Homo sapiens: one gene and its partners. The protein of the gene in region 1 purifies or fractionates together with the protein of each later gene. This does not show direct contact. Each region holds a gene or a part of one and is shown in the gene's direction. Other genes may lie near its edges.

Region 1 (4,168 bases):
ATTGTTACCTATTTATTATCACTTACCATTTTATTACAATATCATTTGTAATTATCCTTTCATCTAAGAAATTTAAGATATAATAAGACTTTCTGGTTTGGAAACTTTTTTTCTGTTTACTATTCTGATTTTCCTGAATAACTGTCCATAATAGATGTTTAGGAATTTAAATTTTTTACAGGAAAAAAATGCTTTCTCATTTACATTAATATGGTGAGTACTGGTGAGAGAATTGTTTCTCTTGATGGAAAGAGAATGCAGAGTTATATTAGTATGAAGTTAGAAATAAGACCTAAATGCTAACTATAGATTACATAAGAGTAAGGTTATCTATGTCAAGAGATATTGACTATAAATTCTAGTAGGGCTGGGAATGTGTTTCATTTATATCTAAAGACAAGTAGTAGTTGCTAACTTGAGGTTTACTGGATCATCAATTTACAACACAACGTGAAAAAAACCAGGGTCCTTATCCCTGAAGATTTTCAAAATACATCCTCCATATCACTGTTGGAACAGTCTCCAACTTCCCATGTGCTCATGTGCACAAACCATACACACACACACATCACACACCACTTGAATGTCCCTAATCACTCATCTTTATGCAGATTCCCTGATAATTATGTAGTCTGTATCAGCACAACAGTATCAAATCAAGCCTTCAAAGGTCTTAAAATAGAGGGTTTATATAACACTTCATGGTTATTTTGGTTTTCTATCAAAAGAGACAATAGGGTCCAAGAAATACACAAAACTTTGCTTCTAACCAACAGGGACATTTGCTATAAATTTTGTAGAAGACCCTTGCAATACATTGTCCAAGAAGTCCGTTAAAAATCCATCTCTAAACAAAAAAGTTTCCCTTTCACTGTCATACACTGAAATTCCAACTATTAGTTGCTATTTCAATTTACACACTGAAAACATACTTCCTTAGAAAGGGCCATGGAGGCTGCCTGTGGAGACTCACTCATGGCACCATGACAATGTGGTAACTACTCCAGTTAGGGAGTCTGGAAGTCAGAGGACATCAAAAGGGTTGGAAGTGCCTCATTGTGAACAAACAACCAGCTTCATGGTTTTGCCTTCTCCTAGGCTTGTCCAGTCTGTATTTCAGTGAATGTGATCAAAGAAAGCAGGGAAAGAACAGTTTTTCCTTGAAAACCCAGAGGAGCAAATGGTCTTTGATTTCTCATGAAAAGTCTTGGGCCTATCTCTTCATGTTAATTGTGATAGTAAAACAATAAAAAATGAGATTTAATTTTAACTTGTGTTGGTCGGTCTAGGGCAGTGAGTGAAGGTGACAGGCTGGAAAAATATTAATCCAAGTTGGTTATTTAACATCTGCTTTATTTGGAGGACACTATTGAAGCCACCTGCTCAGGACAATGAAATTCTTCAGTTACATTCTGGTTTATCGCCGATTTCTCTTCGTGGTTTTCACTGTGTTGGTTTTACTACCTCTGCCCATCGTCCTCCACACCAAGGTGAGTGAACCTGGAGAACAGACTGGTGGATTTCCTGACTTATTTAATTGTCCTTTATTAAAACTGTTTGCTGTTTAACTGCCTGGCTCAGAGCTGAATGAATGTTGACCCTTCATACCTAAAGTCAGGATGGTTGTACATGATGTTTTGGCCATTTTCTCCCTTTTTAATAATTAACATTGGTTGATTCTTAGTATGATTAAACATAATTAAATAGAATATTCAATCAGAATTGTTCTCTGCCTATCAACTAGATGAGAGGAAGAACAAAAGAAGCACAACCTTTGAGATTTTGCAGTTCAAGTTGTCATTCTCCAGGGAGCATGCATGGCTAGTGCAATGCCTTCCCCTGAGAATAGGCAGCAAAGCAATTGCTGGGGACAGAGGTGGAAGAACAAGGGAAATCCTAGGTCCAGCACAGACTAATTTACTTCTCAGCTCTGTGGCTTTGTCACAGAACTTCCTGGAAATTTAGTTCCCTTGTAGGAAAAGAAGACATTGAAAGCTTAGAGTAATTTCCCTTGGTCAATCAGAAAATCTAATAAAGCATTTACCATGTTCTGATAATTCCAGGTTTTGTTTCATTGTGGTGTACTTGTAAGCATTTTTGTTTGCTTTTTAAGAGTAGTCAGGGCATTAAGTCCAGAACAATAAGCTCAAGCATGTTTAATTTCTTGGTAAAATGATTTGAATCAGCAAACATTTAATGAGCACCTTCTCTGTGCCAGGCACAAACGTCACTTGGTAGTAAGAGGACAGGCTTTGGAGCCAGATTCTCTGCTTCAGGTCCCAGATTTACCACTTACAAACTGTGTCACCTGGGCATGCTACTTAATGTCTCTGTGCTTCTGTTTTCTCATATGAAAGATGTGTATAGTAGCAGGCTTGTTGTGAGAATGAAATGAAGAAACACTCTTCAAACACTTATTTGGAGCAGTGCCTGGCACACAGTAAGTGTGCAGTGCCAGTCTCCTTGGGTGTGTTGACTCCACAGGTGGGGCAATTCCCAGCACTCCATTATGCACAGTCCCTCCTCTTAATGGGCAAGAACCCTGCTGATGCTCTCCTCTAACAAGTACTAATCGAGGTTACACCAGTCTGGGTTATAATAGAATCATATTAACTATAATATGGTGGTCCCTCCAGCCTCTGCCAGAAGCCTTTGCCAGTGATCCTGGGACCTCTGAAGGGAATTCATGTGAGCTAATAAAGTCCTTTTGGACACTGTCAAGGCCTATCCTACCTGCAAAGCTGGAGAAGGGACTGGCCCCTGCTGTGGCATCTGTGGGTTGTCTCCCACCAGGTGCAATCTTCTAGCTGCAGCATTCTTGGCTTATCTCTCCTTGTGCTGAGGTCTCACAGAGCTACATGGAGGGAAGGGAAAAACTCCCCACCCCTTTTGGTCCAAATTTCTAAGCCCTCAAATTCGTACAGAATTTGTAAATAATAATAATAACTAAAAGACCTTGTCAGCTGTTTTTGGCTTTGTTGGTTTTGTTTTTCAAATTCTGTGTGACTAACCCTTTCCCTCCCACCCTGCCACTCCCACCCCGGCTCCTTGTGAGGTCTCCTATATGAATCTCTGGCAGCCCCATCAGATGACAAATTCCAGCACAGAAATAGTGCTCTATTCTGAATTCTCACCCCATCTCCTTGCCAAGAACTTCATCTAAGACACATTATGATCTTCACTTTGCAACTCTCCTGGTCCCATGAGTCCTCTAGATTTGGCTGAATCCTATCATGACCATATCCTGCTTCATACCTGGAGCCCTGCTATATTTTAATATTTTTGAGTTAGTCTCAGCATACATTCTTACTTATGGCAGAGAAAGTAGGAAATTAAACTAGTCAAGACAAATTTAGGTCATTACCACATATCATCTGTGCTGCTCTTTTTACATATAAATGCATGACAATTTGATTATCCTCCATAATTTTCTGAGAAATGAATATAAACTCTTTGAAAAACAAAATGAGTAAATAAATCAAAAGCAATCATTTTAGTACATGATTCATTCACTGGGAAGTGTATTATTTTTAAGAAATGCAGCCACTGATTATTTTTTCCAAGGTGCTATGACAAAAGAACATTAGGTCCATGCAGGAACCAGGTGTCTGGCACCAAGTTGCATCTGGTGAGCTGGTTCCTCTTTCCTTTCCTCCTAATCAACTCATTTGTTAAAACTCAATTAATGTTAATGGAGGATTTATTCCTAGTATAATAACATGATATTATTTTTTGGCCACTTTAAACATATATTTAATCATTCAATAAACTGCTAATTAAACTGAAAGACTATTATTTTAACTTGCTTACAATGAAAGCAAATTATTTTTTTAAAGAATGTAGGCCTTTGGAGGGTATAAAATTTAAGGAGAAGTTTACTTTAACATAAATGCAAGTCAATTTACTGTTAACTTTTAGGTTACCAAACTGAAGAAGTCTATGCTTCTAAAGACACAATATTAGATTAATTAAAACATTCAATGGAAACAAAAATCCAAGTTTCTCTTTCAAAACCACAATTATAAAAAATAATTCCATGTGGGGCTATAATCTACAGGATGTAGAGCCAACAAACAATGAATTATTGACTGATTTCTTTCCTTCATTTTCCTGCTTGTTATTGAGTTGTTCAATAGACTGGCCTTAACTTATGTCTTAATTCCATCTA
Region 2 (3,500 bases), on another chromosome or scaffold:
GCCTGGCTAAGATGGTAAAACCCCATCTCTACTAAAAATACAAAAATTAGCCAGGTGCAGTGGCAGGCGCCTGTAATCCCAGCTACTCAGGAGGCTGAAGCAGGAGAATCTCTTGAACCCAGCGGGGTGGAGGTTGCAGTGAGCCTAGATTGCGCCACTGCACTCCAGCCTGCGCGACAGAGTGAGACTCCGTCTCAAAAAAAAAAAAAAAAAAGAATTGATATTTTTTCTTTGTTTTTTTGAGACAGAGTCTCACTCTGTCGCCCAGACTGGAATACAGTGGTGAAATCTCAGCTCACTGCAGGCTCTGCCTCCTGGGTTCACACCATTCTCACCATTCTCCTGCCTCAGCCTCCCGAGTAGCTGGGACTACAGGCGCCCACCACCCCACCCAGCTAATTTTTTTGTATTTTTAGTAGAGACGGGGTTTCACCATGTTAGCCAGGATGGTCTCAATCTCCTGACCACGTGATCCGCCCGCCTTGGCCTCCCAAAGTGCTGGGATTACAGGCGTGAGCCACTGCGCCCAGCCGAAAATACTCAATTCTTTTTAAGGAATTTGATTATGTAAAAATGAAAAATATAATGCTTACGAAGGGAAGCATTCCTATTAACTTAAGAACATTATCAAGCCCTATCTTGTGAGTGGCTAATAGCTGTTATTAACATGAGTGTATAATTTTCCTTACTGGCCCTTCTAGGGAATAGATTAGCAATCAGTCACTTTGGATTAGTGCCCAGGTTTATTATACATGTTGTTCATTCAAATCTTCAATCCTTAACTAAGTTAATTCCAATTGGAGCTGGAAAAGATTAGAAATAAGAAATCTGTTTTTACTGGCCCTTAGGGAAAGCTGGGAGGCTGTCTATTCCCTGAAAATAGTTTCTAAGATATTGCTTCTCAATCTGAGATTTCCTGGTCCCATAGTGGAGATTGAGCAGGGGAATCAGATTATTGAACTATCACTGACCTTTGAAAAAGATCGATATGAACTAAACGGACTGATTAAAAATTCATGTTTGTGTTTTGTTAATGACACTGTCTTATGCTGATGGCAGATTTTACTTGACAGTCACATATGCTTTTGATACCAAAGGAAAACAAATGAGTTATTTAGCAAATGCAGGTAAGGTTAGATTAAATGTTATAAAATATACTCTATGGTATTAATAAAGAGTTCCTGGAGATGAAGTCATTGGTAACAAATGTTTTTTTTGTTTGTTTTTTTTGTTTTTTTTTTTTTTTTTGAGACGGAGTCTCGCTTTGTCACCCAGGCTGGAGTGCAGTGGCGTGATCTCGGCTCACTGCAAGCTCCTCCTCCCGGCTTCACGCCATTCTCCTGCCTCAGCCTCCCGGGTAGCTGGGACTACAGGTGCCCGCCACCACGCCCGGCTAATTTTTTGTATTTTTAGTAGAGACAGGGTTCCATCGTGTTGGCCAGGATGGTCTCGATCTCCTGACCTCATGATCTGCCCTCCTCGGCCTCCCAAAGTGCTGGGATTACAGGCGTGAGCCACCACGCCCGGCCACAAATGTCTTAATGAAAGAAAATGGTCTAAATATCTGGATTATTTTATTTTTATTTTTTTGAGACAGAGCCTCACTCTGTCACCCAGGCTGGAGTGCAGTGGCACAGTCATGGCTCACTGCAATCTCTGCCTCCTGGGTTCAAGAGATTCTCATGCCTCAACCTCCTGAGTAGCAGGATTACAGGTGTGCGCCACCACGCCTAGCTCATTTTTGTATTTTTAGTAGAGATGGGGTATCACCATGTTGGCCAGGCTGGTCTCAAACTCCTGACCTCAGGTGATCTGCCTGCCTCAGCCCCCGAAAGTTCTGGGATTACAGGCGTGAGACACCACACCCAGCCCAATATCTGGATTCTTAATAGATTAATGGAAATAGGGAAACATGAGTAAATGACAAAAGCAACCAAAGTGAATGGTTTCTGGCAGTCACCTAGGAGTGTGAGTGACAAAAAGTTCATATTCATGTTAAAATGTGTATATGGGCCGGGTGTGGTGGCTCACGCCTGTAATCCCAGGACTTTGGGAGGCTGAGGCAGGCGGATCACAAGGTCAGGAAGTCGAGACCATCTTGGCTAACACGGGGAAACCCTATCTCTACTAAAAAATACAAAAAATTAGCGGGGCATGGTGGCAGGCGCCTGTAGTCCTAGCTACTTGGGAGGCTGAGACAGGAGAATGGCCTGAACCCAGGAGGCAGAGCTTGCAGTGAGCCAAGATCGCGCCACTGCACTCCAGCCTGGGCGACAGAGTGAGACTCCGTCTCAGAAAAATAAATAAATAAAATAAAATAAAATAAAATAAAATAAAATAAAATAAAATATGTATATGTTTGAAGCAAAATAATTTTGGGGTCTTACTGAATTTTCTTTTCTTTTTTTTTTTTTTTAAGATGGAGGCTTGCTCTGTCACCCAGGCCAGAATGCAGTGGCACAACCTCAGCTCACTGCAACCTCTGCTTCATGGGTTCCAAGCGATTTTCCTGCCTCAGCCTCCCGAGTAGCTGGGATTATGGGCACCCGCCATCATGCCTGATAATTTTTGTATTTTTGTAGAGACGGGGTTTCACCATGTGAGCCACGCTGATCATGAACTCTTGACCTCAAGTGATCCACCTGCCTCGGCCTCCCAGTGTGTCGGGATTACAGGCATGAGCCACTGCGCCCAGCTGATACATGTTAACATTTATCCTGTTTTTATATGTATGTATGTGTATATGCATACACAATCATATATATATATATATATATATATTTTTTTTTTTTTTTAAAGTGACAGGGTCTTGCTTTGTTGCAATGGTTGGCCTTGAACTTCTGAGCTCAAGTGATCTTCCTGCCTCAGCCTCCTGAGTTGCTGGGATTACGGACATGAGCCACTGCATCTGGCTTGCTTTTTTACATAGTGCATTTTTATATATTAGTAATATTTTGGAACATAATAGAAGCAAAATCCTTTAAGTATGTATAGATTGGGAGCTATTATCTCAAATCCTATTTTTATGATTAATTTTTAGCACACTTGCCCAAAAATGTTTATTAATTGAACTATTTTCATTATAAACTCTTTATAGATGTATGAAGAAAAGATATAAGTAAGCTTAGATGTGTGTCTAAACTCTGTATTGAGAGGAACTCTTCTCATTGACACTTTTGCTTGTTGAACATGTTTACATTCCTCTTACCAATACTTTTCTTTAGATTCCTGATTTACCTGAAGAACCTTCTCAAACAGCAGAAGAAGTAAGTCTATTTTTCTCTTCGAAAATTAAACTTATTTTCTATTTTCTTTGCTTAACATCCATTAAATATGTCTTATCTAAACTTGGGTTTAGAAAGAAGTGATAGCATAAGTGTTCATGTGATTATACTGTAACTAGGTCTTTTTTAGAACATAGAGACAGGGTCTCACTATGTTGCCTAGGCTGGCCTTGAACTCCTGGGCTCAAGTGATCCACCCGCCTCAGCCTCCTGGGT
Region 3 (3,500 bases), on another chromosome or scaffold:
GCCCCACTGGCCTGCTGGAGCTGAAGCCCAGCTCCCCACTCATCCTCAAGGTGGGTCACCATTGCCCGTAGGCTGGGCCAAGCCAGGGAAGAGGCCCCTCGTCCTGGGCTCTGGCTCACCCCCATCTCCTACAGGGCCGGAACCTCTTGCCACCTGCACCCGGCAACTCCCGACTCAACTACACGGTGCTCATCGGCTCCACACCCTGTACCCTCACCGTGTCGGAGACGCAACTGCTGTGCGAGGCGCCCAACCTCACTGGGCAGCACAAGGTCACGGTGCGTCTGTCCACCGGGGGTGCAGAGCTGGGAGAGCCATGCCCCACCTGTGGACCCTGCCCCACTAGCACAGCCCCAGCTCTGACCTTGCCCGAGACTCACCCCTAGCTCAGAGGGCGCCCGGCTCCAGTGCAGGCCCTGCCGTAGCCTTCAGCCTGCCACCTCCTTGAGCCCCCCGAGACTGCCTACCCACCCTGAGCCCTTGCCATGCCAGTGGTGCCCTGGCTGGCCAGGCGCCTGCCCTGGGTCCCAGTGTCTCCACCCTGGTGACCACTCTGTGCCCCTGTCGGTGGGACCTTTCCCACAGGCAGGTGTTGGGGGTGGGTCTTGCCCATCGGGAGGGGCTCCCAAGCTTTGTGGAAAGCATGGGAAGCTCCTGAGTGGCCTCCACCCACTGGCAGGTGCGGGCAGGTGGCTTCGAGTTCTCGCCAGGGACACTGCAGGTGTACTCGGACAGCCTGCTGACGCTGCCTGCCATTGTGGGCATTGGCGGAGGCGGGGGTCTCCTGCTGCTGGTCATCGTGGCTGTGCTCATCGCCTACAAGCGCAAGTCACGAGATGCTGACCGCACACTCAAGCGGCTGCAGCTCCAGATGGACAACCTGGAGTCCCGCGTGGCCCTCGAATGCAAGGAAGGTCTGTTGGGGCCAGGGCTCACTGGGGCAACTGCCACCTCCGAGCCAGGCCCTGGCCTGTCCCCACACCTACTTCCCACCGCCGCCCCCACCCTGCTTCAGCTCAGTTTACAATGTTCCTGATAGCCTTGCTGTGCCAGAGCTGGTCCCAGGGCAGTGGGCGGGTGCCTGACCAGGGCCTGGCCCTGCAGCAGGTACCACCTCCTTGGGGTGCTGCTTGCGACACAGAACCCAAAGCCAGACTGTTTGCATTTGTATCCCAGCTGGGCTATAAGGCTGAAGGTGGCTACTTACCCTTCTGTGGCTCAGTCTTGTCGTCTCTAGAGTGGGCACAATGACAGTGCCTACTTTCCCTGGGTGCTGGGAGTCGTGGTGGGTTGGCTGGTGCCAGCGGAGCAGCAGAGAGGGGTGCTTCCACCATGCAGCAATGGGGAGCCCTTGCGCTTTGGCAGTCCCTGGGCACATAGAGATCTTGGCCTGAGCTGACCTTTGTCCTTGAGATGTCTATAGGGGGAGTCATGCCACACCATGCTCCTGATCAGGGCAGGTGTGAGTGGCAGAAATCTGTTCCATGCCGGGCGAGACTTTGAGCGTTTGCAGATAGTAACTCACACATGTTCAGGGCTCTAGGGGGCAGATACTAGGAGTGTTCCTGCTGCAGTGTAGGACCTTAGCCATGTGGTCCAGCATGGGGTTGTCATGAATTCCACTGGGACTCAACTGGGATGGGGTGTTTTGTTTGCACAGGACTCAGCCAGTCTTAAAATGCAAAGTTCTGCATCCTGGGAGCCCTCTCAGTCCCAGACAAACCTAAGTGGCCCTGTGGTGGGCTGAGGGTCACCCTACCTCTTGGGCAGCCCTGGTGGGACTGGAGGCAGGTGTGTGTTGGGGCCAGGTGGGAGGCAGGTGGCCTGGACCTCCCTTGTGCTCCCGCCTGCTGAGGCTGGCTGTCTGGCGAGGCTGGCGTGTGTGGATGCAGTGGCTGGTGGCTGCTCCAGGCCAGCCAGGTGCAGATAACTAGACGCCTGGCAGCGATGCCCAGGAGACGAAGACTCCAGCTCTTAATTAAACCTGTCAGATGTCCCCCAGAGCCTGCCTGGCACTCCTTTGGCTTCTGATCAGATAGCCTGATCCTCGGGCTGCCACAGGACTGACACCTCACAGCTCTGGAATGTTCTGTCAGGGCCTGCCTGCCTTTGTTCCTGACAGAGGCAGAGCTGGCCCTGAGCAGGGTGGGCCATGTTGAGGGTGCACCAGGCCCGAGATGTGCATGCAATGGTGTGGGGGCTTGGGGACAGCCTGCAGCCCTGGGACCTCACCCCTGGCCGCACTCCACCACCTCACAGCGGGTGGAAGGAGCCCGAACTCCAAAGCTGCTCTACGCTTAACTGCCAGTGTCTGAGATGCAGGAGGCCCTGCCCAGCCTGCCCCTGGTGCTGATGCTTTCTCTGCCCTTGTCTTGCTTGATCCTGTGGGAACCTTGCAGAGGAGAGTTACTATCCCTGTGCTAGGGCTGTAGTAGCTGGGGGACGAAGAGGCACAGTAGTTTCCTTAAGATCACGAAACCAGTAAGTGTCAGAGCCAGGATTTGATGTAGGCCCCAAGAGTGGGAGGGTTGGGGCATGGAGCGGGGCCACCAGGGCATGCTGCCCCTGACGCCGCATCTGGCCACAGCCTTTGCAGAGCTGCAGACAGACATCCACGAGCTGACCAATGACCTGGACGGTGCCGGCATCCCCTTCCTTGACTACCGGACATATGCCATGCGGGTGCTCTTTCCTGGGATCGAGGACCACCCTGTGCTCAAGGAGATGGAGGTAGGACCACTGGCTCCGGGGGGTCACAGGAACTCAGAGGCAGCTGCTATCTTCTGCCTTTGAGGCTCCTTGGGTGCTGATGGATGGTATGGGGCAGCCTGTGTGGCCTGGGGGAGGGTCCAGGCCTGCAGGGCTCTGGGCTCAGCCAAGTGGGGAGCAGGTGCTGGGAGGCAGAACCAAGACCAGGCAAGCACAGTGGAGCCCTGAGCCCTGGGGTTGGGGCAGGGGAATGGCCAGCACGGCTCTGCTCCATAAAGTACCTCCAGAGGGCAGGAGGAGGCTCTGGCCCCAGGGCCTCCGTGGGATGCCAGGCCTCATCCCAGCAAACCACTTGTCAGCCTGGGCTTCTGGCACCTCCCCGGTGGCTGCCCCTTGGGCCCTGCCTCTGTTGGGGGTCCCGCCTGCGGCTCCACTGGCCTGGTCTCCTGGGTGGCTCTGGATGCGAAGCCTCGCTGGGCAGGGGCCGTGTGCTGGGAGGTGCGGGTGCCTGATGAAGTCTGCTATGGCGGTTTGGGAGGGGAGCATGTGGCTGGCATAGCACCAGGGTCTCAGAGAGTAGGGCTTTGCCCCGTAGACCTTGGCAGCGAGCCTGGCGAGGGAAAAGAGGGCTGGCTCCCACACCCCTAAAAGGCCCCCAGCGGCAGGCAGGCTAGGAGCCAGTCCTTGGCGAGCCACGGCCAGGGGCTCGGCAGGTTAGCTCAGTCACACTCTCCAGCTGAGGGCACCCCCCAACCGTGTGCCTTGGATGTTGGGGAGCCCATGTCCCTTGT
Region 4 (3,500 bases), about 25 Mb from region 1:
CTGTAATCCCAGCTACTCAGGAGGCTGAGGTGGGAGGATCAGTTGAGCCTGGGAGTGTGAGACCAGCCTGGGCAACATAGTGAGACCCCATCTCTAAAAAAAATAAAAACTAAAAAATTAGCTGGATGTGGTGGTGTGCACCTGCACTTCAGCTACTCAGGAGGCTGAGGTGGGAGGAATGCTTGAGCCCAGGAGTTCAAGGCTACAGTGACCTATGATTGTGCCACTGCCCTCCAGCATGGGTGACAGAGCAAGACCCTGCCTCTAAAATAAATAAATAAAACTGCCAGCATCCTGAGTGTGCTCTCGGGGCCATGCCCCCTGCCTGTTGTGGTCACTCTCAGGCTCGTTACCGGCCACCCTGTGGGGCCAGGCTGAGGCAGAGGGGCTCTGGGTCCCAGGAACGCCCAGGCTGCGCGCCATCTCCTCTTTTTCTCCTGTGGCTGCATAGTCCCTCCTCCGCACTCTGTCTCCTCCTTTCCCAGAGAGAACCTGCTCTTCAGCAGGCTCGTAAGAGCACTTGACCCCTGGACTTGGGACCAGCCCACATGCCCTCTGGTGCTGCCCCTGGAATGTTGGTTTTGCTGCTGAGTCTTGGTCCTGGTGTGGCTCCCGAGGGCGGGGTGGGGTGAATGGGCAGGGGCCATTTGAAGTCGAGGTATCTGAACATAGGGAGCCTTCTTTCCCCGTCACTAGATTGAAAGATAAAGGTTAATAGGCTCATTTTTTGATTGGAAGTTTACAGATCAAATAATAAATATGGAATACAAAGAGGCTTTATTTCCCTCGGCGCTAGGCTTCATTTGTGCCGATTAGATAACACCTGCTATCTGCCAGTCTGTCGGGGCAGATGTGTGGATCCCAGCTGACTTCTTCTGCACCCTGACCCTTAGCGCCCAGCGGGCATTTGAGCCTAGCAGATGTGGGAGAGTCAGGCAGGGGCTGCTTCCGAAGGAAAGGACAGGAAGGGCGGCTCAGGCGGTGCTGGGCTCAAAACACCCGCTTCCGTTCCTGTGGTGCAGCGCACATGCCATCCACGCCATGCCTGTCTGATCATTTTAAAAACCCAGCTTTGTCGTCTCGCTTCCTCTCTCCTCAACAGGAAGCAGCGAAGACGGAGAAAAGGACTAGGTGGCTGCCAACGCGCACGCTCGGGTCCGAGGCTGCTCCCCTGGAGCGGCGCCCCTGCGCCCTCAGCCCGAGCAGCGACATCCACTCGCCATTTGCTGACATGAGATTGGGAGGAAGAATCCAGAGGTGAAGAGGGAGACGGCTCTTAGCTGCGTTCAAGGCGGGGCCCTCGGGAGCCCAGGTGCAGAGCGAGGCCGTGTCCAGGAGCCGGCGTCCCTCAGTGCCCCGTGCACCCGCGGCCGCGGCCTCCCAGGCAGTGCTCATGCGCTGGCCGTCGGGGGAGGCAGGGGCACAGCCTCCATGTGCGCGCGCGTGTGGAGCTGTGTGCACCGCATGTGTGCTTTCCACAGGGGCGTCTCTGCGTCCACGCCTGCACATCCCGGCGCACGTGTGGGCACCACAGAGGACACGTGAGGGGAATGGTCACCAGTGAGCCATATTTATTATTTCTAGAGAAATCACGAACTGCTTTCTGTAATTGCACTGTGGATAAATGTTCCGAGAGTCTCCATTGTTGTACAGGATCTTCAGTTATTCGAGGGGAATGAGGCAGGTCAAGCCGATGCTAGCCACTAGTTTGATTTTTTTTCTGTTTTATAGTTTGCGCTGCATGGTACTTGTGAAGCTTAAATATTTTGAGTGTTCTACTGTGTCTAGGATTGTTGGGATTGTACATATGGTACTCTTTCATAAATGATAAATGATTCTGAATGTTAGTGTTTTATGTTCATATAGGAAATATTTTCATTGAGTCCAAAATACCACTGTTTTGTTGATGGACTTGAATGCATTTTTGTCTCTTCTTGATGAAGCGGCTTTGCCGCAGCAAATGAGGCTTCTCTCTGAGGAGCTGAGAGGTCTTGCAGCCTCTCCTTGTCATTCTCCCACCCCACATCCCATTTTTTAAAGCCCTTTTGGTAAAAACCAACAGGTTGTGGCCGCAGACCTCAGATGGACCCGGCCCATCCCTGGGGACGTGCTGGCGTGGCAGGTCCAGAGAGCTGCACCCTGCACGGGGCACCGCACCGCTTCCCTCCGCGCAGCTCTTCTGCCTGGTTTTCGGAGGCCAGGCTGCTGGGAAGCTTCCGTGTTCCTGTCAGTCCTTCCTTCAAGAAGCCGGGGAACTCAGGCAGACTCATCTCCGCAGAGCATACCAGCCGTGGGGGACCGTTCGACTTGATGATGTGTGCACACTTCAGGTGGTGGGGACTTGAGCTTTAAAAAAACCTCCACAGCCGAATCTTCTCCTCCGAGCCACTCCACGTCACGTCCAGCTGGGCCTGGCCAGTCTGTGGTTATCCATGTGGGATGAGATAACACCACATCCTGCAGCTGTGAAGGGGGATGGACAAGGGACGACGGCCGACGGCAGAGCATCAGCAGCCGACACATAGTTCGGGTCGGGGCCTTGGGTGGTCCTGCATGGCCCGGGACTCATCTCACGGACCCTCCGTTCTGCATTAAGCCCCAGGTTCTCTTCTGGCTTTGAAAGGGCCCGAGTGCTCCCAGTGTAGCTTCGTCACATCGTCACGAGCCCCTGTGGTCATGGGCGACCTCACACCTCCCTCCCTGAGTTCTGCTCTGACATAAGGAAGTCCTCGGTGGCTGGTGCAGCGCGGCTGTGCTGTGCTGGGGAGGCAGCCGTTCCTTCGGGGGTCCTTGGGCCTGCAGTCCCCTCATACTCACCCTTCACCCAACATATTTTCCGGTGCTGATATGTTTCCAGACTCCAGCGCAACCTGGGGTGCTCTCCAGACCCGTGCAGGGGCCGCCTGGGGTACACGGAAGGAAGTTGAGTCCTAGTGCAAAATGCAGGCGGACGTTGCCAGAGAGTGCGCAGCAAATGACCTTCATTGCCAGTTCCACCCTACTCCTCTCATTTTTTATACTAAGCAATAACTTTCCAAAGCAAGAAGTTCAGGATGGAGAGAGTCCCCTCCTGTGTAGGCATGGGGTGGATGCGGTGCCCACCTGGGCTATGTGGGGAGCACCACTGTCTCGGGATGCGCGAATTTTTTTTTTTTTTTTAATTAACAGGGCATTAGAAGATGATTTTGCCAAAATTGTCATGACTCTGAATTCTTGCTGTGGGGACTTCCTGAGTTTTCTCAGTTTTTACATCTAAGATTAGTCTTGGCTGAAGAGAAATGAGACGTGATTATACTACTTTTTCAATTGCAGGTTTAAGGAGTTCAGATTTAATGACCAAAGTCATACAGATCATGGAATCTGTCGTCGTCTTATACAGTGTCAGCCTCGAGTACATTTATTAACCTTTTGGGGCTGTCAGTTTTCCACTAGGATTAAGATTTTGGCCGGGCGCGGTGGCTCACGCCTGCAATCCCAACACATTGGGGGGTCGAGGCGGA
Region 5 (3,500 bases), on another chromosome or scaffold:
CCCCTCCCCCCCCCAAAAAAAAACCCAATATTGCCAATATAGGAAATATTAAAATTATTGTATGGAATCTCTATGATGATAGAAGTAAAATAACCTGTGGAATTACGGAAAGGCGAGAGAGAAGTTGGATTTAAGTAAAGATGCTATGCACTATAAAGAACAAATCATAGAGCAGTCTGCATGTCTGCCCTTAAAGCGAATCCTGAGTGTCCACTGGACGTGGATGTGACGTATCCATGTGACCAAGTCTCTGTCCTCTAGAGGCCCATATTCTGAATGTCTAGACAGATAGATACTCATGTAATCATAAGTACAAGAAAAACTGGGTTGAGACCTATAGGAGAGAAAAAATGGCGATACCCATTTAATAGGTAGAGCTGTGTTGTCCAATATGGTAGCCATTGGCAACAGATGGCTATTTACATTGAATTTAATAAAATATAGTTTAAAACTCAGTCCCTCTTTTGCACTAGCTACATTTCTAGTGCTCAGTGGCCACGTGTGACTGGTGGCTGCTGTATCAGACAAAGTGGAGTAGACCATGTCCAATATCTCCAAAGTTCTGTTGGATAACACAAATATAGACAGATTGGCGAAACAAAATGAGAATGCAAAAACCACATGATCTTTATAGTATTTCTTAACCACTGTTAAACAAAACTAGAAATTAGAAATAAGAATCACAAAGTCCAGATGAATCAAATATTTCTGTTCCCTGACGGTTCATGGTTGAAATGCAGAATAGTTGAATTCAGTAGGATAGAGAAATTACACATTTTTCTTAAGATTATATTCACATTTACATCTTTAGTAACAAACATGTTAATTTATAATTTTTAAACATATCCAGTTAAAAACCAATGCTACAGGTGACTTGTTAATGTTGGTACCACTTTTGGACAACATGCATAAAATAATGACATTTTTACCATTGTAATTTAACTAATTTTTCTATTTAAAATCTATTTTAATTTAAAAATATGATTTCAGTTCTTCCTACCATTTTAATATTTTCAACTGCAGGCCATATATATATATATATATATATATATATATATATATAAAATGAATGTATATATTATGTATGTATATTCAGTTATTTAATGTCCAAATATTTCAATAGAGAGAAAACTGGAGTGGAAATGAGATATTAGATATTTAAGTATTATTTCAGGCTTATTTGATTCAATTACCCAGGTTACTATGATTCCTTTTGTTATTATTATTATTGTCATTTTATATTTCTTTGGTTGTCATTATGAAACCATGAGAAAATAATTATATAGCATGTTTTCCGGATAATGATTATCCAACAGGACTACAACAAGAACTAATAGAATTCTCCTTAGTACCATTTACTATCATTTTACCCCTGTTCCCATATCTTTTAAATGTAGGTATTTTATAAAATACCAAAATCTCAAGTTCTTTGATCTATGAATAGTTTTTTCCTTTGGATTTTTCATTTATGTGCTTTGTCTGTTGCTTCAGCAGCTAACCAGTAGCTTCAAATAATTCAGTAACCAAAGACTAGAAAATAAAAAGTTGACACATAAAGATATACATGTATATATTATTTTAGTGGAATTCCTATTAATGAGGTTATTAAATGAAAATTATTTTAAATTGGATGAATTGTTTACTTCAGCACTATCAGAAATTCAAATTTATTTAGTCTCTACAAATTCTGTGTACCCTCTTTTATTTTTTCAATTATTAATTTTCTTTAGAAAGCACATGTGGATATTTGGCCGTTTTTATTGATCTTATTTAAGCCCACTTGTACTTTACATAACGATTTTCTGATGACTCGCAAAGCTACGTAAAAAGAAATTTAAAAGGAATAACCACGCAGAATGATTTTTTCCTTTTCCTCTCCATTGCACATAGCTGATTGTATAGCAAATTATAACAACCAACTGGATAACAAACAAACAAATCTGATGCTCCCTGAGTCAACTGTTTATGGTGATGTGGACCTTAGTAACAAAATCAATGAGATGAAAACCTTCAATAGCCCAAATCTGAAGGATGGGCGTTTTGTCAATCCATCAGGGCAGCCTACTCCTTACGCCACCACTCAGCTCATCCAGTCAAACCTCAGCAACAACATGAACAATGGCAGCGGGGACTCTGGCGAGAAGCACTGGAAACCACTGGGACAGCAGAAACAAGAAGTGGCACCAGTTCAGTACAACATCGTGGAGCAAAACAAGCTGAACAAAGGTGAAGAGGCTTGCATGTATTCCCATCTGTTTCTGTATGATACTCTCAGCACCTCGACTAGATGTTGAAACTTGTCTGCGACTAGCAAGTAAAATCTTTTCTTCTGTCGCTGAGATTTTCTTATTTCTTTGGTTTCAAAATTTCCAGTGTCAAAGAGTTAATTAGCACAACAATAACCTTGGAAAATTTATTTTATAATAATATATAAGTATTTTCAAATGGTTTTGAGATTAATTTAAATTTAATAGCAGGTGAGGGATTGGGACGGACAATCTTTTATTCATGAGGCAGATGTACAACTGTCACAATACCTCGCATTTTCAATAAATAGACTATCCCATTCTTTCCACTAGAGGATGGAAGATAATTGCTTCTATGTGGTTATATAAACCAATGGCATTTTTATATCAACCTGAAATAAAATAATTAAATTAAACTTGAACTGGAGAAGTGGTTCAATTTGTTGTATGTCTCCCACCTCGTGTGGTTATTAAGACTGCTACAGTGTATAATTTTAGAACCTAAATTTCCTTGGTTGACCTGATTGAAGTCTGTCCGTATAGAACCTAAAATAAATTGAGTTTAGTATTAACTTGAAGCCGCAGAATAGTATTCTGTGGCCTGAAGGAAATGTTTCTGTATTGTAATGTGTATGAGTTGGAAAAGATAGGTGTTTGGTTTCTTTGTAGTCCTTTAGGCTACTGCTATAATATCATGATTTGCAAAGTTATACCTCTAGGAAAACCAGGATTGCTCTAATGTGAATAGATGGGGGCAATGCATCCCCACCTATTCCAGGTAAAGAATACACTGGAGATAATTGGAGACATAGACATTTTCTTTAGGTTTGGGTTGGGAACATTTTCTTTGAAAATGCGATTTATCACAGTTGAAGATGACAAAAATATAACTTAAAAATTTCATTTAAGTTAATATTATGTTTTAACTCGAGAATGAAGTCAGCTAGGCTTTTCTCAAGTTTAAGAAAGTACTTGATTGGTATAATAACCCAATTTAATAAATATGGATCGAGACTCCTGCATAAGTTCATAACAAAAACTGACAAAGATGAACAGGACAGTTTCTGTAATCATGGAGTTTGCAGTGGTGATTCAAACTATTGTCACATTATTCCTTCATAGTATATTGTTTTACTGTGGACTTCGGAAAGCCCTGAGAGCCTCCGCACAAATATTTCAGAACTCTGATTTATTGTTTATACTGCTTGTAAGCAGATTTGGTATGTCAGACCATAATAAAGAACCTGGAATGCA
Region 6 (3,500 bases), on another chromosome or scaffold:
CACCACCCGCCCGATGACTCTGCCCTGTGTGCCTTCCCTATCCGGGCCATCAACTTGCAGATCAAGGAGCGCCTGCAGTCCTGCTACCAGGGCGAGGGCAACCTGGAGCTCAACTGGCTGCTGGGGAAGGACGTCCAGTGCACCAAGGCGGTAAGGAGGCACACACCTCGCTCTGCTCCTGCTCCATGACACAGGTTCCAACCTTCCTGTCCATGCCCTGGGGCACATCTGCTCCCACACCACCATGGACCTGAAATGAAAGAGGTTTTCAGACTCAGGTTATCAGGTGGTAACCAATAACGCAGGGTCTTACGTACACCAGATACTTGAGATATGTGTGTTGATTTGTTGTCATTTCAAATATATGTATTGAGTGCCTACATCACATCAGGTGCTATTGTAAATGCTGCAGGCTTCAGCTGTGAACCATACAACCCTACAAAGCTCACTGCCCTCATGGAGATTACACGCTAGTTGGGTGAGACAAATGAACACATAATACATGTTAGTTTGCCAAATGGTGATAATGGCTATAGAGAAAAATAAACAGGAAAGGGGGAGAGGCAGTAGCTGAGAGGACTGACTCATTGAGAAAGTGGTGTCTAAGCAAAAACTGAGGATGGGAAGAAAGGGAGCCACACAAGTGTCCAGAGAAAGCATTCCAGAGAGAGAAAGGGTGAGGAGAATGTGCAAAGAATTCAGGGCATGCCTGGAGTGTCTGAGGAACAGTAAGGAGGCAACTGCAGCCAGATCAGAGTATGTGAGAGAAAGAGCAGCAGGTGATGGGGTCCATCAGAAGTAATGGGGACCAGGTCATGTACACACAGAGCTGTAGGCCACTGTGGTTCCCAGTGAGGGGGTCAAGTGGAGATCAGAAATCTAAGTCAGAGGAGAGGGAAGGGAGTCTGGCTTGACCAACTGATGGAAAACTGGAGAAGAATCAGGAGTGTGGGCAAAGGCAAAAGAGGAGAGGATGAAAAGCTCAGAATCCAGACCTGAGGAAAGCAGAGACAAGAAAATCAGTGGCAAGCACTGCCCTGTCAGCGGCTCATGGTGCTGCCATCAAAGTATTCATGATCCACTCTTCTTCCATCATTCATCCAACCATCCAATCATCCATTCATTTATCCACCCATCTCTCCTTTCATCCATCCCCTTTCCTTCCCTCCTTTTATTCTCCTATCCATCTATCCCTCCATCCTCCTTAGCTCTCTCCCTCCATGCATCTCTCCATCCATCCATCCATCCATCATCCATCCATCCATCTATTCACCTATTTACCTAAACCTCCATTCATCTGTCCCTGATCCTTCCCTTCATTCTTTCCTCCATCCCTTCCTCCATCCCTTCATCCATCTCTTTATCCACTCATCCCTCTTTTTTCTCCCTTAATCTATGTCTCCATATCTTTATCTATCCATCATCCATTTGTCTACCTAGCCCTCCATCTATCCATTCATCCCTCTCTTTATTCATCCACCATCATCCATCTACCCATCCCTCTATTCATTTACAAGTAGTATTGAAGATCTTCTGAATGCCTGGCACTGTACTAGGCACTGGGGTTGCAAACATAAAAAGACATGATCGGCTGGGTGCGGTGGCTCACACCTGTACTCCCAGCACTTTGGCAGGCTAAGGTAGGCAGATTGCTTGAGCTCAGGAGTTCGAGACCAGCCTGGGCAACATGACAAAACTCCGTCTCTACAAAAATTCCAAAAATTAGCTGGGTGTGGTGATGCACACCTGTAGTACCAGCTACTCTGGAGGCCTGAGCATGGGAGGTGGAGGTTGCAGTGAGCCAAGATTGTGCTACTATACTCCAGCCTGGGTGACAGAGTGAGACCCTGTCTCAGAAAAAAAAAAGACATGATCACTAGTCTCACAGATCTTATAATCTAGTAGGGGGAAGAGAGAGAGAGAGAGGAAGAGAGAGAGAGCTAGAGACAGCTGGCAACATAATGTAGTGGCTCAGAGTTTGAGGTTCTGAGACAAAAGCCAGGCTTCAAATTCCATCTGTGTTTCTTCCTGCCTTCTTCAGAAGCACCTTAGCATCTCTACATTCTTATCTGTGAGATGGAAATAATAATGCCTAGCTCATGGGATGATCAGATGAGATAATACATGGAGAGATTAGCACCATGCCTGGAAATGTTAGGTTTATTATTACACAGGGAGTTAACAGGGAGTGTGAGAAGTGCAAAAGTAGGTTTCTTGTACACAGTGCTGAGGGCTCTGGATCTGCAACCTAGAAAAAAATATATGAGACCAAGGGGCCCATACGGCTACCTTCTGAGTACTCTAAATTGAAGGTGCCTGCCGTTGGGACCAAGCACCAGTACTTGAAGCAAGAAAACATCATTCCAAGGCTACGCTTCTATTCCTGTCATCATTTGCTTGGTGTGGTAGAAGAGTCGTGGTTAAGGCTTTGAAGTAAACCAGATGGGGATTAAAAATCAGTCCTACCACTTACTCCTTGTGTGACTTTGGGCAAGTTATGTACCTGGTCTGAGCTGTAAATTTTTCGTCTTTAAAATAGAGATAATATTGTCTTCTTTTCATGGTTATTATGAGGATCAAATGGAAAATTTATGTAAAGTGCTTAGCACAATACCTGGAACATAATAAGCATTCAATAAATGGGCCGCTATGATTATTAATATTAATCACAGTAGTAAAGAGCCAGCTATTTTCTTAGTTATCTTACTGTTGTAAAATGAGGAAGCTAGACTAGATAGTCTTTGGTTTTTTTTTTTTTAACGCCAAAATTTTATGGCCACTGGCCGTAACCAATGTGGAGAGGTGGAGAGGAAATGTAACCCTCCGTAAGGGTTAAATGCTTGCAGAGTCCAGCCTAGTTCCCATAACCCAGAGGGGGCCTTGTCAGGAGGAAACTGCTGATTCCTGCCTGCTTCTGAGCCAGAGGAAAGAGGAAGATGACACTCTTCTCTGCTCCAGAGCAGAGGGACAAGCCTGGGCTAGTTACAAAAGGATAGCAAAGGCACTGGGAGAGAGGTGACAGTGAGTGGGGCCAGGACCTTAGAGTGGAGAGCCCCTTGCCTCCACCCCTTCAGCACCACACCCTTCTGGTGCAAGGGCTGCAAGAGGAATGGCCCCTTAAAGACCCTGATACTCCAAAGAACTAAGACCCAGGGACCCAGAAATATTTTGGTGGCCTTAGAGGGGAATAAGGATAAATGAAAGAAGCTGTGGTCCCAGAGCTTGATTTTAACATGACTCTGGAATAACATGGAAATCTCAGATCAAAAATTTGAGCTCTGATCCCAGAAAAGAGAGGAAGAAGGGGGCTATCACTCATTGAATAGCAGCTAGTCCTAAAGGCTAAGCTTGGCAATTTAAGTGTTATCTCACTTGCTCCTCACAATGACCCCATAAAGCAAGAGTTATCTTCCCCATTTTACAGATTAAAAAACAAAGGCTCACAAAGACTAAGTAAGTTGCTCAGATCTCCACAGCTATAAGTGATAAAGCGGGGATTT
Region 7 (2,618 bases), on another chromosome or scaffold:
GAGGAGTATTACAATTTTTACTTTAGAAATGATTAATAGACATGTTCAGCAGCTGAAGATAAATATAGGCTCACTAAAATCCATCAGTTATATTTGACTCAGCCGGGTGCAGCGGCACATGCCTATAGTCCCAGCTACTCGTGAGGCTTAAGAGGAAGGATTGCCCAGGAGTTTTTGGCTGTATTTTGCTGTGATCATACCTCTGAATAGCCACTAAACTCCAACCTGGGTAACATGTAAGACCCCATCTATTAAAAAAAAAAAAAACTAATAACATATGCATTCCAGCCTGGGCAACATGTAAGACCCCATCTCTTAAAACAAAACAACAAAAAAAAACTGCCGGGTGTGGTGGCTGAAACCTGTAATCCCAGCACTTTGGGAGGCCAAGGTGGGCAGATCACCTGAGGTCAGAAGTTGAGACCAGCCCGGCCAACATGGCAAAATCCTGACTCTACTAAAAATACAAAAATTAGCCAGGCATGGTGGTTTGTGCCTGTAATCCCAGCTACTTGGGAGGTTGAGGCTGGAGAATCGCTTGAACCCGAGAGACAGAGGTTGCAGTGAGCTGGGATCATGCCACTGCACTCCAGCCTGGGTGATGGCGAAACTCCATCTCCAAAAGAAAGAAAGAAATAAAAATAAATGAGCAAACAAAACTTACGTTTGACTCAATCTGGGCTTTGGTCTTTCTCAAGTTATTTATATTTGATTGTGGAATTCTCATGAAACATTGACTTCTTAAAACCATCTTTTTCCTAGTTTACTAAAGCAGTGAAGCACTTTGGGGAAGAGGCTGGCAAAATACAACCAGATGAGTTCTTTGGCATTTTTGATCAATTTCTTCAAGCTGTGTCAGAAGCCAAACAAGAAAACGAAAATATGAGAAAGAAAAAGGAGGAAGAAGAACGTCGAGCTCGCATGGAAGCTCAGGTGAGAGGATGATTAATTGACCAATTCCACCTCCTAGAAGTTCTATGACTGCAGCCCAGTCAAAGGTATTTAGAGAGCACTCTGACCTGGCAGGAAGGAAGGCTTCAATGTACTCTCTAGAATGCTGTGGGACTTTACATTGGTGTTGTTTCTCTTGGGCTATTTAACAGTGTATATTCAAAGCCTTAAAAAAAAAATCTATCCACATCCTTTGCTCTGGAATTCCATTTCTTAGCAATTATTTTAAAGAAATAATCATAAATTTACACAAAAAAGGGCAGCATTCTTTATAATAGCACCAAGCTAAAGACAACCTAAATGTTTACCAAAAGGGGATGAGTTCTAAATGATATAACAGCCATATAATGGAATATTTATGCAGTCCTTGAAAGACATGTATTCAAAGAATAATGATACAGAAAAAGATTTCTACATGAAATCTTTTTCTGTTTTGTTTTTTAAGGTGTGTTAATACATATAGAAAATAATAGTGGTGTGATAAACCTTTAAAAAGTTCACAGTAGTAGAATTAAAGATGTTTCCCCCACCTTCCTTTTATCTGAATTATCCAAATTGTCTACAATGTGTATGTATTAGTTGGCTTTTAATAACAGTAACTATTGTGTATCAGGTTTCAGGCTTCCACAGTAGACACAAGCTAAGCCTTTGATATAAGGAAAATGGCCTGATGACCATTTGCTTTAGTTATTTGGGGTCTATGTAATAGTGATACCTTTTTTTTAATTTTCATTAGCAGAAACACAAATTGCCTCAATTGCTCTTATTTTAACTAGAATATCATGCAGTTTACCTAGAATCTAGGTGGTGAGGGTCTAACCACAAGGGAGTGGTTGTTTTTTGTTGTCCATTGCTCCTGCAATGGAGACCCCATGTTCCAATTCCCCCTTTCTTGTGATATCCAAAGGGGGTTATAGGATGAGCATAGCTTGGTGTCTGGAGCATTACCATATTTCAAGGAATTGACCTCTACTGCAAACAAAATGCAACATTTTGACATGTCTCAAAGAGGTTATTTCTTTCTATTTGCAGCTCAAAGAACAACGTGAAAGGGAACGTAAAATGAGAAAAGCTAAAGAGAATAGTGAAGAAAGCGGAGAGTTTGATGACCTTGTTTCAGCTTTACGCTCAGGAGAAGTGTTTGACAAAGACCTTTCTAAATTGAAACGGAATCGCAAACGTATTACCAACCAGATGACTGACAGCAGCAGAGAGAGACCAATCACAAAACTTAATTTCTAATTTTCCATGAATACTTTTTTTTAGAAAGCTCATTAGCAGCCCTCTAAAGTGACTAGAACGTTTCATTACACTGCCTTGCAATCCAAACAGTGGCAATTTTTTCCTTCATCTGTGAGTGAATGTGTGAACGTGTGTATGTAAATGTATGTGTGTATATATTAAAAAATGTATATAGATGTCTGAGTGTTGTCTGGAGACCTATACGTATGGTTAAAAAGATTTATGTTAATGTATGTGCTCCAAAACCTTTCGTGTATGCATTCACATTGAGTGTGGCTCATTTTCTTTCCCCGAACGCCATGACTGTTCAGAAGCACAATACTATCTCCTGAAAGAGATAAGAGACATTCCCTAGATTCAAAGGCAAAACAGAAGAAACAAACAAACAAACAAAAAAAGCTTGCAAAATATTTTATGGTTTCCAA

What was found.
Region 2: the proteins of SLC13A1 (region 1) and UBXN8 purify together in Homo sapiens (affinity purification with mass spectrometry; one large-scale study listed by BioGRID and IntAct). This does not show direct contact.
Region 3: the proteins of SLC13A1 (region 1) and PLXNA1 purify together in Homo sapiens (affinity purification with mass spectrometry; one large-scale study listed by BioGRID and IntAct). This does not show direct contact.
Region 4: the proteins of SLC13A1 (region 1) and LMTK2 purify together in Homo sapiens (affinity purification with mass spectrometry; one large-scale study listed by BioGRID and IntAct). This does not show direct contact.
Region 5: the proteins of SLC13A1 (region 1) and ROBO1 purify together in Homo sapiens (affinity purification with mass spectrometry; one large-scale study listed by BioGRID and IntAct). This does not show direct contact.
Region 6: the proteins of SLC13A1 (region 1) and PLXNA2 purify together in Homo sapiens (affinity purification with mass spectrometry; one large-scale study listed by BioGRID and IntAct). This does not show direct contact.
Region 7: the proteins of SLC13A1 (region 1) and DAAM1 purify together in Homo sapiens (affinity purification with mass spectrometry; one large-scale study listed by BioGRID and IntAct). This does not show direct contact.

The regions. Positions count from the first base shown.
Region 1 is NC_000007.14:123,197,170-123,201,337, reverse strand, and holds the start of SLC13A1 (solute carrier family 13 member 1), read left to right. Parts: upstream 1-1,368; 5' UTR 1,369-1,391; coding exon 1,392-1,490; intron 1,491-4,168. UniProt on the Homo sapiens protein: Sodium:sulfate symporter that mediates sulfate reabsorption in the kidney and small intestine. Can also mediate the transport of selenate and thiosulfate.
Region 2 is NC_000008.11:30,757,664-30,761,163, forward strand, and holds part of UBXN8 (UBX domain-containing protein 8), read left to right. Parts: intron 1-3,224; coding exon 3,225-3,266; intron 3,267-3,500. UniProt on the Homo sapiens protein: Involved in endoplasmic reticulum-associated degradation (ERAD) for misfolded lumenal proteins, possibly by tethering VCP to the endoplasmic reticulum membrane. May play a role in reproduction.
Region 3 is NC_000003.12:127,017,615-127,021,114, forward strand, and holds part of PLXNA1 (plexin-A1 precursor), read left to right. Parts: coding exon 1-50; intron 51-134; coding exon 135-278; intron 279-679; coding exon 680-914; intron 915-2,587; coding exon 2,588-2,730; intron 2,731-3,500. UniProt on the Homo sapiens protein: Coreceptor for SEMA3A, SEMA3C, SEMA3F and SEMA6D. Necessary for signaling by class 3 semaphorins and subsequent remodeling of the cytoskeleton. Plays a role in axon guidance, invasive growth and cell migration.
Region 4 is NC_000007.14:98,204,362-98,207,861, forward strand, and holds part of LMTK2 (serine/threonine-protein kinase LMTK2 precursor), read left to right. Parts: intron 1-1,102; coding exon 1,103-1,131; 3' UTR 1,132-3,500. UniProt on the Homo sapiens protein: Phosphorylates PPP1C, phosphorylase b and CFTR.
Region 5 is NC_000003.12:78,634,499-78,637,998, reverse strand, and holds part of ROBO1 (roundabout homolog 1 isoform a precursor), read left to right. Parts: intron 1-1,890; coding exon 1,891-2,226; intron 2,227-3,500. UniProt on the Homo sapiens protein: Receptor for SLIT1 and SLIT2 that mediates cellular responses to molecular guidance cues in cellular migration, including axonal navigation at the ventral midline of the neural tube and projection of axons to different regions during neuronal development.
Region 6 is NC_000001.11:208,213,385-208,216,884, reverse strand, and holds part of PLXNA2 (plexin-A2 precursor), read left to right. Parts: coding exon 1-150; intron 151-166; exon of another isoform or gene 167-250; intron 251-3,500. UniProt on the Homo sapiens protein: Coreceptor for SEMA3A and SEMA6A. Necessary for signaling by SEMA6A and class 3 semaphorins and subsequent remodeling of the cytoskeleton. Plays a role in axon guidance, invasive growth and cell migration.
Region 7 is NC_000014.9:59,366,667-59,369,284, forward strand, and holds part of DAAM1 (disheveled-associated activator of morphogenesis 1), read left to right. Parts: intron 1-762; coding exon 763-933; intron 934-1,983; coding exon 1,984-2,193; 3' UTR 2,194-2,618. UniProt on the Homo sapiens protein: Binds to disheveled (Dvl) and Rho, and mediates Wnt-induced Dvl-Rho complex formation. May play a role as a scaffolding protein to recruit Rho-GDP and Rho-GEF, thereby enhancing Rho-GTP formation. Can direct nucleation and elongation of new actin filaments.